Homo sapiens: one gene and its partners. The protein of the gene in region 3 purifies or fractionates together with the protein of the main gene of each other region. This does not show direct contact. Each region holds a gene or a part of one and is shown on either strand. Other genes may lie near its edges.

Region 1 (3,650 bases), on a different chromosome or scaffold from region 3:
GTGAAAGTGAAAGAAAAATCTAGTCACATTACTACTCCTTTGTTTAAACAACTTCAGTGACAACCCAATGCATTTCAAGTAAATCCGAACTACCATCATCATCCGGTCCCCGCATGCCAGACCCGGCCTCCTGCTTTGATTTGCCCTGATCCGCTCACCCTCACACACTGCATGGCACCTACATGGCCCACTGCCAGGCTTTCCAAGAAGCCAGGTGTTTTCTTTGCACACAGCCCCACGTTGCCTGGGGATGCTAATCCAATGGCCAGCTCCCGCTTCTTCTCATTCTTCAAGTCTCAGGATTAATAACACCTCCTCAGAGAAGCCTTGCCTTACAGTTTCATATTCCCCTCAACCCAGATCTCCCTTATCCATAAGTACCCCCACACTTTCCTGTTCCTTCATGGAACTTAACATATTGGGAATTTTGTGTATCTCTTGGCCAATTTTGGTTTGCTTTCCCCAATAGGAGTTTCATGGATTCTGTTTTATTCAATAGATCCACTGAGCGACAGAAGCACGGTGTCTGACACAAAGTGCTCAGTAAGACGTTGGCTGAATGAATTGAGATTTTTTTTTCCAGTCATCTAGAAAGACTGACTCCTCTTCCTTATATGCTAATTTCTGTTACAACCACTAGAAATATTCTCATTTATCAAACTTTCTTCTTAAAATGAGTAAAGCAATCATTTTAAAGAATAAACACGAGAGGCACTAATTAGAGGCACACACCATCTCTCATGATTCCAGCATTTTAAGACACACACACATGCAAAGTACCTTTTACTGTGGAGAATAAAAAACAACTCTCATCTTGAAAATTCTGAACCATCTGGAAGGATAAAGTAAATGCGTAAGTACAATTAAGATCCAACTGTCGTTTCTTAAAATGATTTTAAAACAGTAAATATTCTTCTCAAACAAACACAGGACTCAATGGCCAAAACGATAATTCATGAAGGCAGTGTGAGGCAGCAAAGATGCACACGTGCTGCACTGCCTTGTGTTCACTATGCCTGTCCATAATGGTCCCTGAGAGACCTGGTCAGTCACCCATGTGACCCACAGGGGCACATTCCCTGCCGGCTCCAGTGGATGATGACTCGAACAAAAATTGCATAAAGTGCTCTTCTATTATTACTTGCCACCAATCACTAGGGGAAAAATTATATATCTTACATGTTTTTTTAAATTAGTCATCAAATAATAGACAAAAGGAAAACACATCCAGTGACTCACCTCATAAAAAGGGCCAAAGCCTGCCACTATCCCTAGAGTGCCCCAGTGATTGGCTGCATCCTAAAGGGCTGGGGGGAGGCTAAGCCAGTTTTCCTTGGCTTGTATTCCATATTATCACTAGGATGCCTGAAACTCTTGGTTATAAGTTCTTCCAAAGTGATTCCCAACTCTCTGAAAATGATTCTCATAAGTATTTTCAAAAGAGGTCACAGAATTTTTCTACAGTTCTACAATTACATGTATAAAAGTAAATACCAGTCTGAAAAGGAAAAACAAATGATTTGATTTACCTGATCACTAACAAGAATGTGAATACCGGTGGGACCCTGTCTGTAAACCTGATTAATTTGGTGGAGAGGGATATTAAACACCAGCGCAAGTTTTCGAGCAACTTCTGAGGCAATCATTTCTTCCAAGTAGATTGCATGATAAACTGAAATTAAAAAAAAAAAAAGAAAAGCATTTTAACAGTAATCTTTGATCTGTTTTCTGCCTGATCTGTAGGATCTGTACGAAGGTCACACCTTTCAAAGTACCAAAAAAGTAAAAAAACATTTTAAATGGGAATAAACTATTTCTTTCCCCCATCTTACTACCTTGAAATCTTGAACTACCAATCTAAAACGTAAGAATACATTATTTATATCCACAAATATAATTTAATAAACATTAACAGAAATCCCTGGACAAAAAGATTTGAGGTTTGAATTTTTCTTCATATTTTTATTCAATGAATATAGTTTCATGTATTCAAAATTTAAAAACAGGAATTGGCTGCAAATGGACATGGGGGATCTTCTTGAAATAATGGAACTCAAACTGAATTTTGACAATGGCTGCCAAACTCTCTAAATTGGCTAAAATACCATTATATACTTACAATGGGAGGACTTTATGGTATGTAAATTATGCCTGAAGAAAGCTGTTTTTAAAAATAATATATACTTCATGTATTTCTAGCAATATACAAAAAGAACCCTAAAAGAGTCATAGTTCTTTTTGTTTATTTTTTTAAGACAGTGTCCTTTTTTGTTGCCCAGGCTGGAGTGCAGTGACACAATCACAGCTCACTGTAGCCTCTGCCTCCCAGGCTCAAGCAATCCTCCCACCTCAGCCTCCTAAGTAGCTGGGACTATGGTGGGGGCACACGCCACCATGCCTGGCTAATTTTTATTATTATTATTATTATTATTATTATTATTATTTGTAGAGACAGGGTTTCACCATGTTGCCCAAGCTGTCTCAAACTCCTGGGCTCACGCAGTCTGCCCAGTTAGGCCTCCCAAAGTGCTGGGATTACAGGCGTGAGCCAGCACGCCCAGTTAAGCATTATAGTTTTTGATCCAGTAATCCTACTACTAGGAATTTATCCTAAGGAATAAAAGCTATCTGTATATGCCCCTCCCCCACAAAAAATTTTAAATAAAAGATACTATATGAAAAGCTAATATAAACAATGAAGTGTGATGCTTCCTTACAGAAAGCCCCAGCCACATTCCAGTGTTCTGCATTTTTGCTACACAGAACTTATCAGCAGACATCTGCACAGTGCACATCTGTAGTGAGTCTCACTCTTGTACGTCCTGCTCAATTACTGATTAAAGCCAGACATGGATCAGGAATATCATTACTGAGAACTTTGCTTCCCCAAACAAGGGGTCTGTGAGTATAGAAACCCAGAATTTTCCATTACATAAAAGAAGCTGGAACTAAAATTACAGTAAGAATATAGAAATGATCTAGAGCAGGTGTCACCAAACCACAGCCCATATGGGCCAATTCCTGCCCTCCACTTGTTTTTTTTTTTTTTTTTTTTAAATAAAGTTTTACTGGAACAGCCTTATCTACAATTTACATATTGTCTATGGCTATTTTAGCACTACAATCACAGAGTTGAATGTGAGAGACCCTATGTATGATCTAAAGAGATGGAAATATTTACTACCTGACCTTTTACAGAAAAAGTTTGCTGATTATGGGAAAATATCCAATATTTCCCCATATCCCTCCACAAACACTCATGTTTGAGAATACACCTTCCAAAATATTATAATCTTGGCCATATCTAAGTGATGTATAAGCTCTTGATGATACATGGAGATCTCCTTTAAATTTTTATCCTTTAAGAATTTGTATACTTAATCTCAAAATTCAGAGCTTTTGAAGTCAAAATAATACCAAATAGAAAAGTTCACAGTAGTGATGCTATCCTTCCAATTTTTCAGTAAAATTCAAACCACAAGACATTTTTCAGAGCTCTACCTATTCTTAGGGCAAATAACTGCATCTCTGAATGCCATTAACACATCTTTTTTTTTTTAAAGTTCTGAGCATGTTGCCTTTGTTCTACTTCAGAGTATGGAAAGAAGGAAATGTTACCATATATCCATACAATAAATGAGAAAATATAT
Region 2 (3,650 bases), on a different chromosome or scaffold from region 3:
AAGATAAGATAAAAGGCTCTTCTGGTTGGTAACAGAACAGCATGAGGCCAGCATGGGCTGACACAGGCCCGAGAATCCATGGCCAGTGGGGAGCACAGGGATCACAAACCAGAGTGAGAAGGAGGGGAAAATAACTGGCTAGGTTTTAAGGGAAGGTCCAAGGTTCCATTCCCAGCTGGGGAGGGCACAGGTTGGGTGGGGCCTGGCTTACCCAGAATTCCCACTGGGGTTCACCTGGGCCTTTCCCCAAGATAAAACTGGAAGGCCAGACTCCCTGGTCCACACAGTCCAGCCCCCCAAGCACTGTCTCATACACAGAGAGGGGGGCACCCCCAGCTCCACTCCTGAACAGGAAGGCAGGGCTGTCAATACAATGCAGTCGATGACACCACGTGAGCCCGGCCTCCACTGTGTCCAGCTGCCCTCAAATGACCCAATTATGACCTGTCATTTCACCTGGCTGCAGGTTATACTTCTTGGGCAGCTCTGTGGCCAAAACTAGTATTAATTTTTAATGAAATCTGTATTCATTAGAATATTTAAATAACAATTTTTAATAATTATTATAATGTATCCTGTAATTAGTTATTTCTATAATTTATCTTAATAATGAAAAGTTAATTTTTAATAAAATCTGTACTTGCCACTGAAAATGGATGGCTCTTAGCTTCTTCGCGGATATTAGTGAATGGAGATTCCAATATAAGGGCATCTGGAGGCGTCTCTAGATAAACAAACAGGGAACTGAGAGGTAGGCAGGAAGCCAGCGACATACATGTGGCCTGTGGGGCTCTGAGGGGCCCCCAGAAAGCACAAGGAGACCACAGCGCCTCCCACCAGGCAACCACCTCGGCAGGCCTCAGATAGCACCAGGGGTGCCCGCCAGGGGAACAGAGATGGCTCTGGTCACTCCTAAAAAGCAGACTTGCTGATGCGGCTCTGGGGCCAGACCTGTGTGTGTGAGGCTCCCCAGCTCCTCAGGTGTATCATGGGAAGGGTGGCTGGTCAGCCCCGGGCCCCCCAGAATGTGCAGCTCATGCTGCTCCATGAGGACGCTGAGCACTTGCAGCAGGGCCGGGACTGGGGAGCACCCTGAATGCTCACTGCCACGGCTGGGGCCCAACAAGGCACTCACCTCGCTCACAGAGGCGCCGCACCAGATTTGTCGCCACGCTAGGAAAAAAGAAAAACAGCTTAGTTGAGTTATGATAAAATTGTTTGAGATGATATGGGCCTTATGCTGGAAAGTGCTCAGAGGAGCCATGGGGTCTGTGAAGCTACTGGAGTTTCAGGACAGAGTGGGGGAAATGGAGATCCCTCTAGCACTGGGGGTGACCTGGCTGCCCCACCATCAGCTGACCCCTGCAATGAGGGCTGTACCCACAGCCAGTCAGCTTGTCCCCGAGGTGTGTCCTGCTGCCTCTCACTGCCCGTACACTCCCATTGGCCGGGCCGCCTGTCGGCTGGGGGTGGCCAGCGTCTGCCTGCACCTCTCCTGGAGCCCACCACACCCAGGGCCTCTTGCCATCCCAGGACCACACCTGGTGGACCACGCAGACGGCCAAAGGGATGGCTGGTGCCCCCCACCCACTCCTCTCCTGATGCTTCCCAGCCTACAAGAGGCCATTCAGGTGTTGGGAGAAGGGCTGCCCCGAAGGGAAAGGCAGCAGAAAGGGAATGGCAGTGAAGGTCTGGGGACTGGGGCCCTGAGAGCAGAGGTTCCCGCAGAGACGTGGACCTCGCATCAGCAGAGATGACTCAGGCTGCCCACAAAGGGAGTGTGGAAGTACCTCCTGTCCTGGCCTCTGTGAGAAGCAAACCACCCACTGTGCCCTCCCTCAGCTCTGAAGACGCTTCTTCCTCAGAGCCAAGTCTCCCTAGGGAGACCCCTCGACCTCCACTGCCTATGTCTGTCCTGAGCCACTTCCTGGACGAGGAGCTCAGATCCTTTGGAGTCTCTTTGTAACTTCCCCTCCTGCCTCTGCCATGGGGATGGGAGCGAGGCTGGTCGGGACTAATGGTGCCACAGGGTTTGCAGGGATGGTGGACTCTCTAGATCCAGGCATGGGAGTCACCAGGAATACTGACTCCCACTAAAGGCTGCCTCCTGCTGGGGTCCCTTACCCAGTGCCCAGAGAGTGGCCCCAGATGTACACGGGGTTGTCACCACTTCTTGCTTTGATCCAGTCAAAAACGTGGAGTGCGTCATAGGTCATGCCCCGCTCAGATGGCGTTCCCACTGAGTCACCCCAACCTGGGAGGGAGAAACGGCAGGACGGGGAGGTCAAAGGCAGCTCACAAAACCTGGACAAACACACCTCCCCAAGGGGGCCCAGGGCCAGGAGGAGACAGGGAGGGGCCCGCTTGGCCCACCCTTCCAGAGTCCACAGACCCACCCAGGCCACTGGGCAGAGCAAGCAGTGGGGAGAACGGGCACAACCCCACATCCCCACCAGCCCTGGGGAAGGCAGCCCAGCAGCAACCCTGCCCTGCCCCTGCTGACTGCACAAACCAGACATCCCCTCACAGGGTCACTCTAAGTTGGTGAGCTGCACATTTGAATGGCAACTAACAGCAAGCTGAGTTAACAGAACAGATCACAGAGCTTCAGAGCTGGCACCGGCATCCTCAGGCCAGGGCTGGGACTTGCCCCACCCTCTTGGGCAGGGGAGTGAGCTCACTTCTCCCTCTCTCTTTCTTAACAGGCAAGCTAGTGAGGTCTAAGGCAGTGAAAGCCTCTGCCACCACCATCCTCAGCTCTACACTTCTCCCCCATCCCCCAGCAGCATCCATGTGTCCCACTCCGAGCCCTGACGAGCAGCAGTGCAGATGGCGTGGTCAGATGAGCAGCCCCCGGGGCCGCTGGCTGGACACCAACCTCCTCAACGCCGAAGGCTTGGTCAGGGGCAGGACAGGGAGTGGAGTCCGGAGGCTCCCAGAACAGGGAGGGCATTTCTGGGTTCAAGGCAACCATGACCCAGGAAGGGGAAAGGGGCTGTTTCCCCTTAGGGTCTAATTAGCATCTTGTTTCCATAACAGAAAACACTACCATCTCTGCCCCCCAAAATTACAACCTCCCAAGGGTCCCTCCCCCAGTCTCCAGCAAAGGTGGAGTGCAATTATCTTTCCAGCAGCCCAGCAGTGAGTCATCATCAGATGATCTGAAAGCACCACAAAGGTCAGAAAGAGCAGGTTGTGCAGTGTAAGCAAACAGTTAGTGCAGAACTTGCTGTTTCCCGACTCAGACACTAGAGGAGGGAGGAGGCCATGCAGAGGGCTAGGGCCAGGCTGGGAGGCAGGGGTATGGGGACATGAGACAGAAAGAAAAGAACAGAGACAGGGACAGGAGACAGAGACAGACAGGAAGACTGAGAGACAGGAACAGAGAGGCACAGAGACAGGCAAGAAGACTGACAGGGACAGACAGACAGGCACAGAGACAGGGACAGGAGGCAGAAGGATGCGGACAAAGAGGCAGATGCAGTGAGAGAGACAGAGGGACAGTCGGAGATGGAGCTGGCAGTCTTGGTGCCAATTAGAAACGTAGACTCCACGAGAACTGAAACAGAAAGTGCTGCGTGGGATTTCATTTCCTGACAGAAGTGCGGGGAGATGAATGGGAAGAAGCCACTCATTCTCCCTCTCCTAAG
Region 3 (3,650 bases):
TCAGAATTAGCTATGGCTGCCATTTCCCCTTTTGTCAAATACAGGGAGATATTTCCCACGGTCTGCACATGACTCAGAATGGCTTCATCTTTATTTCACGTTCTACATTTCTTGTTGCTTGACTTAGGAGCATATGAGCTTTTCCCTAGCCAGGCCTTTCCCTGCAACCTACCTACCCTCCCTCAGCACTAAACAATCACATTTCTTGATCCATTCAAACATGCAGGCCTCGGCTGGACACAGTGGCTCACACTTGTAATCCCGGCACTTTAGGAGGCCGAGGCAGGAGGATTATTTGAGCCTAGGAGTTCAAGACCAGCCTACGCAATGTGGCAAGACCCTGTCTCACATCAAACAAACAAACAAACAGGCTTCTACCCACACTCTTCTATACAAATAGTTTTCTCTCCTTTAACAGAACTCAACTCTTCAGAGATTTTCTAACCATACAGTAAAGGGTGAGACACTTTGCTAAAACTTGTGGAGTAGTTAAAGATGAAAAGGGGACAGTATCCACCTTCAAGGAGCCCTCATTCTAGCAAAGAGAGACATGCATGAAAACCAGTAAACCCTAAATACTGTCATAAAGCATGAGGAATGCAGTTCTGTGCCCCACTACAAATAAACACTGCACTTAGTAAAGTCCTCACTGGAGGAAGACCCCATTCACAATGCAAATCCTATTACTCACTATACAACTTGCTACTTCTAACTTTGGGAAAAAAGCATTGAGGAAGCAGCATAATTCTCAGGGCTTCCATAGTCAACTGGGGGTAATCTTGCTCCAGGCTACACATTCTATCGCACCCTCTCTCCAAAGACTCCCCAGGGAAGGAAAATAAGAAAAAAGCAAAAAGTGACCTTAGACAGGCACAACTGTGGGACAATGAGGGAAGGCAGAAGATTGATGGGGTAAAACAAATGCATAAGTGAAAATAGAGCTTTTCTCCACTTCACCCTTAAATAAGCCAGGATTTTAGGTATGATCTTAAGGAGAATGAATGAAGTGATTGTTGAACTCAGGGAAGTAGGAAGGTTGCATGACCTTTGTACCAGCTTTAGGGGCTGGCATTTCTGAGAGAGGCTGGCCCTTCCTGTAGAGTTCAAGAAGTTGGGTGAAAACAAGGCACAATCAGAGGGCAGACATCCTGCCAATTGTGCAACAACCAATTGTGCAATGTGCTTTGAGCTTCCCTGCTGATCACCTTCTCAAAACAGAGGGGCCACAGTAAGGAGCCTACATGTGCAAACGCCTAACACAGTACCTAGCATACAGTCAGTAGCATATAGGAAGGCAATGCAGTCCGGTGGGAATAGCATGAAAGATTTAAAGTATGCCCTCAGACCGGGCACGGTGGCTGATGCCTGTAATCCCAACAATTTGGGAGGCTGAGGTGGGCGGATCATGAGGTCAGGAGTTGGAGACCAGCCTGGCCAACATAGTGAAACCCCGTCTCTACTAAAAATACAAAACTTAGCTGGGCATGGTAGCACATGCCTGTAGTCCCAGCTACTTGGGAAGGTGAGGCAAGAGAATCGCTTTTACCCAGGAGGCGGAGGTTGCAGTGAGCCAAGATCGCCCCACTGCACTCCAGCCTGGGCGACAGGGTGAAACTCCATTTCAAAAAATAAAAATAAAAAATAAAAAAACAAAGTATGCCTTCACAGCTTCAAATGTGGCTTCTGCCACTTAAAAACTCTGTACCTTGGCCGGGCGTTGTGGCTCACGCCTGTAATCCCAGCACTTTGGGAAGCTAAGGCAGGCGGATCATGAGGTCAGGAGATGGAGACCATCCTGGCCAACGTGGTAAAACCCTGTCTCTACTAAACATATAAAAATTAGCCAGGCGTGGGGGTACACGCCTGTAGTCCCAGCTACTCAGGAGGCTGAGGCAGGAGAATCACTTGAACCCAGGAGGCAGAGGTTGCAGTGAGCTGAGATTGTGCCACCGCACTCCAGCCTAGGCAACAGAGTGAGACACCATCTCAAAAAAAAAAAAAGTAGCTGTTGCCTTGTGAAAAGATAGACAAGTTCATTAAATTACCTGGCTTCTGATCTGCAAGTGGGTTACCTGGAAAAAGCGTTGTATGCTCTAAAAGTCCTAGATAAAAAAATTTATTTAACTTTCTCTTCTTCTTTCCTCTGCCTCACCTTACCCCCTGAACTTCCCAGAATGGGAAAAGGAAAGACTTACTTCACTTTACTAGTGCAGATATGGTCTTTTAGTTAGGAACTGTGGTCAATTATTAATGAGAACTGCAGCTATAGTAACACTGTAGATAAACAGGCATTAAAATACTAACAGATCATTGAACACCTGTATTTATTTTTTGCTCCAAGGACTCCATATATTCAGATTTTCTTCAAGATCTTATCCTTTTTTCTCTTTCCGTACATTCCCATTCAACCACCCCTTGAGTATTAATCACTAGTCCAAATGTTTGTTCAGTCCTGACATTGCTATTGGGCATTTCAGGACAGTATCACCACTGTCAGCTGTCACCTCCAAAAGGATAACCAATCAGCCCCTCAAACCCACTGACTCTATAACAGGACGTCATCATTCTCCTCAAACTTCCTCCTTCTATGACTTCCAGATACTTTTTTTTTTTTTTTTGAGACACAGTCTTGCTCTGTTGCCCAGGCTGGAGTGTAGTGGTGCAATCTCGGTTCACTGGAGCCTCTGCTGCCGGGTTGCAGCGATTCTCCCGCCTCAGCCTCCTGAGTAGTTGGGATTACAGGCATGCACCACCACGCCTGGTTAATTTTTGTATTTTTAGTAGACACAGGGTTTCACCATGTTGGCCAGGCTGGTCTCAAACTCCTGACCTCAGGTGATCTGCCCGCCTCAGCCTCCCAAAGTGCTGGGATTACAAGCATGAGCCACCATGCCCAGCGACTTCCAGATTCTTAATGATGCTCCCTTATAATTGCAGATGCCTGAGTTCTAAAACCAGAAGTCCTCAAGTCAAATCTGTCACCAAGTGCTATTCTACTTCCTTTTTTCTCCATTCTATCCACAGTTCAACCCTTACTTGCCCCGAGACATTTACAAAGCTTCCTAACACATCTCTCAGACTTCCGGTCCTTTTCCCTCCAATTTAGCCTAACACTGATGCTTCAGTGAGCTTTCTAAAACACAAGGCACTCCATTCCTCCCATGCCTTCAATGGCTCCCACCTGCAACCAGGAAAAAGTATAAACTTTCTACGATGAAATTTAATGTCCTCCATGATACAACTTCAACATAACTTTTCAAACCAAAGTTACATGATTCCTTCACAAACTCTTAGCCTATGCTCCGCCAAATCAAAACTCTCCTTGTTCCCTAACCCTACCCTGCCTTTTATGTTTTTACAGCTTTGCTGAGCAAACCTCCAGGCAAACAGTAGGAACTAATCAATGCCAGTTGATTAATCAATTGAAATCAATACCCTGGCTTCTAATCAATAATAGAATCTAGGTAGATTCTAGATTGCAAAATTCTTTTGACTTTTCTGAAAGTTTAAACCTTTTCATAATCAAACACTGGGAAAAAATTAGTTAAATGAATAAATAAATGAGAAAATGAATCGCTTGGGACCTGGGTTACATTCTCTCCCAAGAATCATACAGTACAAAAAGATATGTGGCACTATCTTTTTGAAAG

The links.
Region 1: the proteins of CPVL (region 3) and UBP1 purify together in Homo sapiens (affinity purification with mass spectrometry, with the first as the bait; one study listed by BioGRID). This does not show direct contact.
Region 2: the proteins of CPVL (region 3) and ABHD12 purify together in Homo sapiens (affinity purification with mass spectrometry; 2 studies listed by BioGRID and IntAct, with this or other methods). This does not show direct contact.

The regions. Positions count from the first base shown.
Region 1 is NC_000003.12:33,391,783-33,395,432, forward strand, and holds part of UBP1 (upstream-binding protein 1), read right to left. Parts: intron 1,673-3,650; coding exon 1,530-1,672; intron 833-1,529; coding exon 781-832; intron 1-780. UniProt on the Homo sapiens protein: Functions as a transcriptional activator in a promoter context-dependent manner. Modulates the placental expression of CYP11A1. Involved in regulation of the alpha-globin gene in erythroid cells.
Region 2 is NC_000020.11:25,307,322-25,310,971, forward strand, and holds part of ABHD12 (lysophosphatidylserine lipase ABHD12), read right to left. Parts: intron 2,255-3,650; coding exon 2,125-2,254; intron 1,174-2,124; coding exon 1,136-1,173; intron 725-1,135; coding exon 645-724; intron 1-644.
Region 3 is NC_000007.14:29,139,927-29,143,576, forward strand, and holds part of CPVL (probable serine carboxypeptidase CPVL isoform b precursor), read right to left. Parts: intron 1-3,650. UniProt on the Homo sapiens protein: May be involved in the digestion of phagocytosed particles in the lysosome, participation in an inflammatory protease cascade, and trimming of peptides for antigen presentation.